Linked DNA regions of Homo sapiens. The protein of the gene in region 2 purifies or fractionates together with the protein of the main gene of each other region. This does not show direct contact. Each region holds a gene or a part of one and is shown on either strand. Other genes may lie near its edges.

What was found. The genes of interacting proteins can lie anywhere in the genome.
Region 1: the proteins of MAGEA4 (region 2) and DCAF6 purify together in Homo sapiens (affinity purification with mass spectrometry; 4 studies listed by BioGRID and IntAct, with this or other methods). This does not show direct contact.

The regions. Positions count from the first base shown.
Region 1 is NC_000001.11:167,939,683-167,943,182, reverse strand, and holds part of DCAF6 (DDB1- and CUL4-associated factor 6), read right to left. Parts: intron 1-3,500. UniProt on the Homo sapiens protein: Ligand-dependent coactivator of nuclear receptors. Enhance transcriptional activity of the nuclear receptors NR3C1 and AR. May function as a substrate receptor for CUL4-DDB1 E3 ubiquitin-protein ligase complex.
Region 2 is NC_000023.11:151,919,389-151,922,888, forward strand, and holds part of MAGEA4 (melanoma-associated antigen 4), read left to right. Parts: intron 1-204; exon of another isoform or gene 205-334; intron 335-3,137; exon of another isoform or gene 3,138-3,243; intron 3,244-3,500. UniProt on the Homo sapiens protein: Regulates cell proliferation through the inhibition of cell cycle arrest at the G1 phase. Also negatively regulates p53-mediated apoptosis.

The DNA.
Region 1 (3,500 bases), on a different chromosome or scaffold from region 2:
AATCCCAGCACTTTGGTAGGCCAAGGCGGGCAGATCACAAGGTCAGGAGATCGAGACCATCCTGGCTAACGCGGTGAAACCCCATCTCTACTAAAAAAATACAAAAAAATTAGCCGGGCGTGGTGGCGGGTGCCTGTAGTCCCAGCTACTCGGGAGGCTGAGGCAGGAGAATGGTGTGAACCCAGGAGGCGGAGCTTGTAGTGAGCCAAGATCGAGCCACTGCACTCCAGCCTGGGTGACAGAGCAAGACTCTGTCTCAAAAAAAAGACCAAGTTTAAAGTATCACACTAGCTGATTTCAATCCTCGGTATAAAGACATGAAGCTAGATCAATGGAATGTGGCTAGGAAATTGACTTAAACATTTATGGTCAATTGATTTTCAACAAAGGGAAAAAAGTAGTCTTTCCACACACTGTTAGATCAATTGCACATTAATATGCAAAGAAATGAAACTTGACTCTTACAACATATGTAAAACTTAACTCGAAATTGTTCACAGACCTAAATGTAAGAGGTAAAAAGATAAAATCTCCAGGAAAAAAAAAGTAAAAATCTTTGTTACCTTGGATTAGGTAAAGATTCTTAGATAGGACATAAAAAGTATGAACTATAAAAGAACCTGTTAAGAAAAAGACATAAACTGACAGAAAATATTTGTAAAGTACATATCTGATTAAGGACTGTTATATAAAGAATTATAGAATTCTTACAATATTAAAAAGGTAAACCTGAACATTTAACCAGACTATATGGATGACAAAAACAAAAGCCACAAAAGATACTCAACATCATTAACCACTAGAGAAATGCAAATTAAAGGCCAGGCGCAGCGGCTCATGCTTGTAATCCCAGCACTTTGGGAGGCCGAAGCAGGTCAATCACCTGAGGTCAGGAGTTCGAGACCAGCCTGACCAACATGGCAAAACCCCATGTCTACTAAAAATACAACATTAGCTGGGCATGGTGGCGCATGCCCATATCCCAGCTACTTGGCAGGCTGAGGCAGGAGAATCTCTTGAACCCAGCAGGCAGAGGTTGCGGTAAGCCAAGATCATGCCATTGCACTCCAGCCTGGGCGACAAGAGCGAAACTCCGTCTCAAAAACAAAAAAAGAGAAATGCAAATTAAAACAATGATATATTTCTACACGCCTACCATGAAGGCTACAATTAGGAAGACTCACTACACCAAATGCTGATGAGAATGTGGAGCAATTGGAACTCTCATATACTGCTGGTGGGAATGCAGTATGGTAGAATTACTTTGGAAGACAGTCTGGAAGTTTTTTATAAAGTTAAACATACTTACCATACAAGTCAGCAATCCCACAATAGATATCTATTTAAAAGTGTTCGACCCTAGTTATTTTGTCCAAGATGTACATGAAGTTTCACTATTTACATTTTCCCTGTGGAGCCATCAGCAGTGTTTAAAAAAAAATTTTTTTAATCTCCTTCAAGTACTTGGGGAAGCCTGCCCACCTTAAACCTGAAGCAACATTAAATTACAAGAACTACACACCATCTAGAACAATTTTCCAAACCTCAAGCTGAGACTCATTAGTGCGTACTCTACCAGTTCAACACCAACAGTTGTAACAATATGAAAAAAAACAGAATGCATCCCATCTAGTAAGGTTTATATATACACCTAGAGAATCCTTTATTTTCGTTGTGTATATCACAGGTTGCCACATAAATGTACTTTTATCATGGATCATTTTTAAAACATTTTAAAAACACTGACCTAAAGCATACTTGTAACATAAGCTCCATGCTACCAGAAGCTTCTAAACCTTCTAAGCACTTATAACTTGATTCATCCTATTTTAGGAAGCAATGAAACCCACAGTAGAGCTATCATAGTGTCTATGGTTGTTATGATTACTTATATGCCTTTGGTGTCCTGCCTTAAGGAATTATCAGTATATCTTACGTTTGTCACAATTGACCGTCATTTTTCAATACTAAAATCATACATTTTTCAGCTTTCACTGAAATTTCAAGACTAAAGAAACAAAATACAAATATTTCACTAACTTTTCCCCAATGGCTAAAAAAAGAGGCAAAAGTCAGAAGTTACTAATCTTCATATAATAAATACACTGTAACTTGGCAACATATTATGAAGAACCTGGTAATCTAGAATGCAGATGTATTCAAGATGCACTAAAGAGTAATCGACACGCAAAATTATCCATTTCAGTACATACTGACTCTAATGATATTCAAAGGACACTGACTTCATAAACTCCTTACAAAAAGATGAGATTCAATCTCCACTAAAAAATTGTCACTGGCTGCCTAATCATAATTTACACATTTTATACATTATAATAAATAACTCCCTTGAGAAGTACCTTAAAATTACTTTTTTATCAATTACTATCTTTTAATTTAGAAGGGTTAGAAAGTTGTAGGAGTGTCTGTCCAAAAGGAAAGAAATATGAGTAGAAACAAGCAATGTATTGAAATAAGTTTATTTTATTAACAATGTTTATCTTTACAAAACCGTATATATATGGGATAATAAAATCTGTGTGGCTAATAAATCACTGATTTCCAAAAGCACTACTCTACACCTAGTATACAGTAATTTGAGAAACTATTACATTTAAACATTTAAACCTACAGGTATCTCTGACTTTGATAATTATTCTTTAAAAAAAAAAAAAATTCCAGGAGGCTGAGGTGGGAGGATGGCCTTGAGCCCAGGACGTGGAGGCTGCAGTGAGCCATGAGGGTGCCACTGCACACCAGCCTGGGAGACAGAGCAAAACCCTGCCTCACCCTGCCCCCCGCCTCCCACCAAAAAAAAGAATCCTACATTGAAATTTAGATAGGGCTCACAAAGATTAAAATCCCTGGCCTATCCTCTAAATCCATGCTAGTCTAAAACAACACTCTGTTGGCCCAGGTGAATCTTGTGGATTTGGGAGCTCTAAGTAAACATATCTTTTAATCATAAATAACATCTGGGAAATTATTCATCTTCATTCCCACAACATAATAGGAAGTTTTCTGAAGTATAATTTTCTTTGATGGGAAGAAAGGAGATAATTAATCAGTTTAAGTAAAATCAATTACAAAGCTTGAATATTAACATTGAAAGGGCACATGCTATGGTGAAATAACTGGAAATGTAAAGGCTACAAGAAAAATTTATCTATTTGTTCTATCCCAATTTTACTATTTAGCAGTAATTCACTGCTAAAAAATCTGTAGAAATACAAATAATGAAAATGTATCAGAAAAATACTTAAATCTACAACCCTGTAGATAGACAATCGTAATGTTTAAATATTGAAGTCTTTTAAAAAAGGAATCTATTTCCTTAGGAAAATCCTAACTTGGAATTTGACTTTTAAAAGGAAGGCTTTATAAGTGTACCATACTTTATTTATTTATTTATTTATTTATGACGCAGAGTTTCCCTCTGTCGCCCAGGCTGGAGTGCAGTGGCACAATCTTGGCTCACTGCAACCTCCACTTCCCAAGTT
Region 2 (3,500 bases):
CAACCCCGCACCTCTCTCACACCACCATCTCCCACCCCAAAACCCGGGCCCCTCCACCAACCTCACCTCTCCCACCCCCATCCACACTGAATCAGGTTCTGCTTCCGCTTTCAACCCACCCCCAAAACGCGCCCCCTCCACCGACCTCACTCCTCCCACCCCCATCCACGCTGAATCGGGTTCTGCTTCCGCTTTCAACCCAAGAAAGCCGCAGGTGCCGGAATGTGATGCCACTGACTTGCGCATTGGGGGTTAGAGAAAAGCGAGCTGCTCTGTCTGACCAGCAGCTTGGGACTGGTGGAGGGAAGCGGGCCAGGCCCTGTGAGGAGTCAAGGTGAGACGCTGAGGGAGGACTCAGGAGGCCCCCACCGCAGATAGACAATCCCAAATAATCCCGAACCACTCATGCTCCCAGCCCTGGGCCACTCGTGGGGGGACTTCTGAGTCTGGGGCGCCCACCACCCCACTGCCTCTGAAGTCGCACGGGACTCTGCAGTCAGAGCTTGGGGTGATCAGTGCAAGACTGGTGAGGGCAGGCTCTGCCAGGCATCAACCTCAGGACTGTAAGAGAGGGCCGAGGGTCCCCCACCCCCATTCCCATCCCCCTTCCCATTCCCATCCACACTCCCAACCCCATCTACACCCTATCCCCCACCAGCACCCCTATCCTCCCCAAACCCCCACTACCCTTATGTCCTCATCCCCCACCCCAACACCACTATCCCCATCCAGGTTGAATCGCATTCCGTTTCTGCTTTCAACCCAGGGAAGCTCCAGGTTCCTGGATGTGATGCCAGTGACTTGTGCATTGGGGGTTAGAGAGACGCTAGCTTCTCAGTCTGACAGGCAGCTTGGGATTGGCAGAGGGAAGCCGGTCCAGGCTCTGTGAGGTGGCATAGTGAGAAGCTGAGGGAGAAGTCGGGAGGCCCTCTCCACCCCAGATAGACGACCCCAAATAATCCGGCACCCCTCCTGCTTCCAGTCCTGGGCCACCCGTGGGCGGACTTCTGAGTCTGGGACGCCCACCACCCCACTGCCGCTGAAGCCGCAGGGGACTATGGAGTCAGAGCTTGGTGTGATCAGTGCAGGACTGGTGGGGGTAGGCTCTGCCAGGCATCAACGTCAGGACCCTAGGAGAGGGCTGAGTGTCCCCCACCCCCATTCCTATCCCCTACCCCTTTCCCATCTGCACTCCCTACCCCATCTGTACCCCCATTCCCCACCTGTGCCCCTATCCTCCCCAACCCCCCAACCAGCCTCATACCCCCCTCCCCCACCCCTACCTTCATCCCCATCAGCGCAGCATCCGGTTCCACCCCTGCTTTCAATCCAGGCAAGCCCTGGGTGGCCGGATGTGATGCCACTGACTTGTGAATTGAGGGTTAGAGAGAAGTGAGTTTCTGGGTCTGAAGGGTGGCTTGAGATCGGCAGAGGGAAGGTGGCCCAGGCTTTGTGAAGAGGCAAAGTGAGACTCTGAGGGAGGATTCAGGAAACCCCTATCCCTGATAGAGGGTCCCAGCCCTGGACTACCCCGCGGAGGCTGACTTCTCAGACTGGGCTGCTCCCCACCTCCGCCCCCTTCGCAACGCGTTTGTTTAAGCCACAGGGGACTCTGGAGTCAGAGGTTGGTGTGATCAGGGAAGGGCTGGTTAGGAGAGGGCATGGCCCAGGCCCTGCCAGGAATCAAAGTCAGAAACCTGAGAGGGAACTGAGGTCCCCCAAGATCCTAGTCTAACCCCCACTCCCACAAATCCGCTGCCATTTCGCTGCTCCATTTCCCATTCCTTGCCCTCCACCCTCACCAGGCAGAATCCAGTTCCCCTTCTGCTATCAATCCAGGGAAACCCCAGGCTTGGTGCTGGGATGTTTTTTGGGGGTCAGAGAATCAAGGGCATAGTCCTGAGGGGCCAGTTGAGATCGGCTGAGGGGAGCGGGCCCAAGCTCTGTGGCGAGGCAAGGTGAGACTCTGAGGAAGGACTGAGGAGGCCCCCACCCAAGATAGAGGAACCCAAATAATCCAGCGCAGCTCCTGCTGCCAGTCCTGGACCACCCGGGGGAAGACTTCTCAGGCTAGGCCATCCCAGCTCCCACTGCCACTAAAGCTACAGGGGACTCTAGAGTCAAGAGCTTGGTGTGCCCAAGGCAGGGCCCAGGCTCTGCCTGGCATCGGGGTCAGGACCTTGAGAGGGAACTGAGGGCGCTACACCCCCACCCCATCCGCATTCCAACATGCCCAGCCCCATCCCCAACTCCGTTTTGCAGAATCCATTTTTTCCCCTGCAGTCAACCCCGGGAAGACCTGGGAATGGTCAGGCACTCGGATCTTGACATCCACATCGAGGGCTGAAGGAGGGAGAGGGTTTGGTATCATGAGCAGAGCCTCAGGGTAGCAGAGGGAGGACCCTGGCCCTCCTGGGAGATGAGGAAGGCCTCAGGAGACCCAGCACCCCAAGGCAGGGAGCCCACCCCACCCCGTCTGAGAATGAGGTGCCTCCTCTTTTAGCCTCAGGAATCCAAGGGATGGCAACTCAGGTCAGCAGAGGGGTGGGTTCCAAGCCCTTCCAGGATCAAGGAAAGGAAGACGAGGGAGGATTCAGGGGGCCTTGCATTCCAGATCAGTGGAGACCTGGGCCCTGGGAGGTCCTGGGCAAGGTAGCCACCTGTAGCTCATACTTCCTGCATCTTCGAGGTCACAGAGAGGAGAGGGCTATGGTCTGAGGGGTGGTACTTCAGGTCCGCAGAGGGAGGAGTCCCAGGATCTACAGGACCCAAGGTGTGCCACACTTCACGAGGAATGGGGATACCTGTGGCTCAGAAAGACGGGACCCCACAGAGTCTGGCTGTCCCCTGTTCTTAGCTCAGGGGGGACCAGAGGAGGGATGGCCCTATGTGCCAATTTCACTTGTTCCACAGGCAGGAAGTTGGGGAACCTTCAGGGAGATGAGGTTTTGGAGTAAAGGGGCAATGTTTGCTCATCTCAGGGGGTTGGGGGTTGAGGAAGGGCAGGCCCTGTCAGGAGCAAACATGAGTACCCCACAGGAGGCCATCAGAACCCTCACCCCAGAACCAAAGGGGTCAGCCCTGGGCACCCCACACAGGGGTGACAGGATGTGGCTCCTTCTCATTTCTGATTCCAGATCTCAGTGAGGTGAGGACCTTGTTCTCAGAGGGTGACTCAGGTCACCACAGGGACCCCCATCTGGTCTACAGACACAGTGGTCCCAGGATCTGCCAAGAGTCCTGGTGAGGAATGTGAGGGAGGATTGAGGGTACCACAGGGCCAGAACGCAGATGATGACCCCACAGAAATCAGCCCTGCTCCTGTTGTCACCCCAGAGAGCATGGGCTTGGCTTTCTGCTGAGGTCCCTCTCTTATCCTGGGATCACTGGTGTCACGGAGTGGGAGGCCTTGGTCTGAGGGGGCTGCACCCAGGTCAGTAGAGGGAGGGTCCCAGGCTCTGCCAGGAGTTGAGGTGAGGACCAAGCAGGCTCCGCATCCA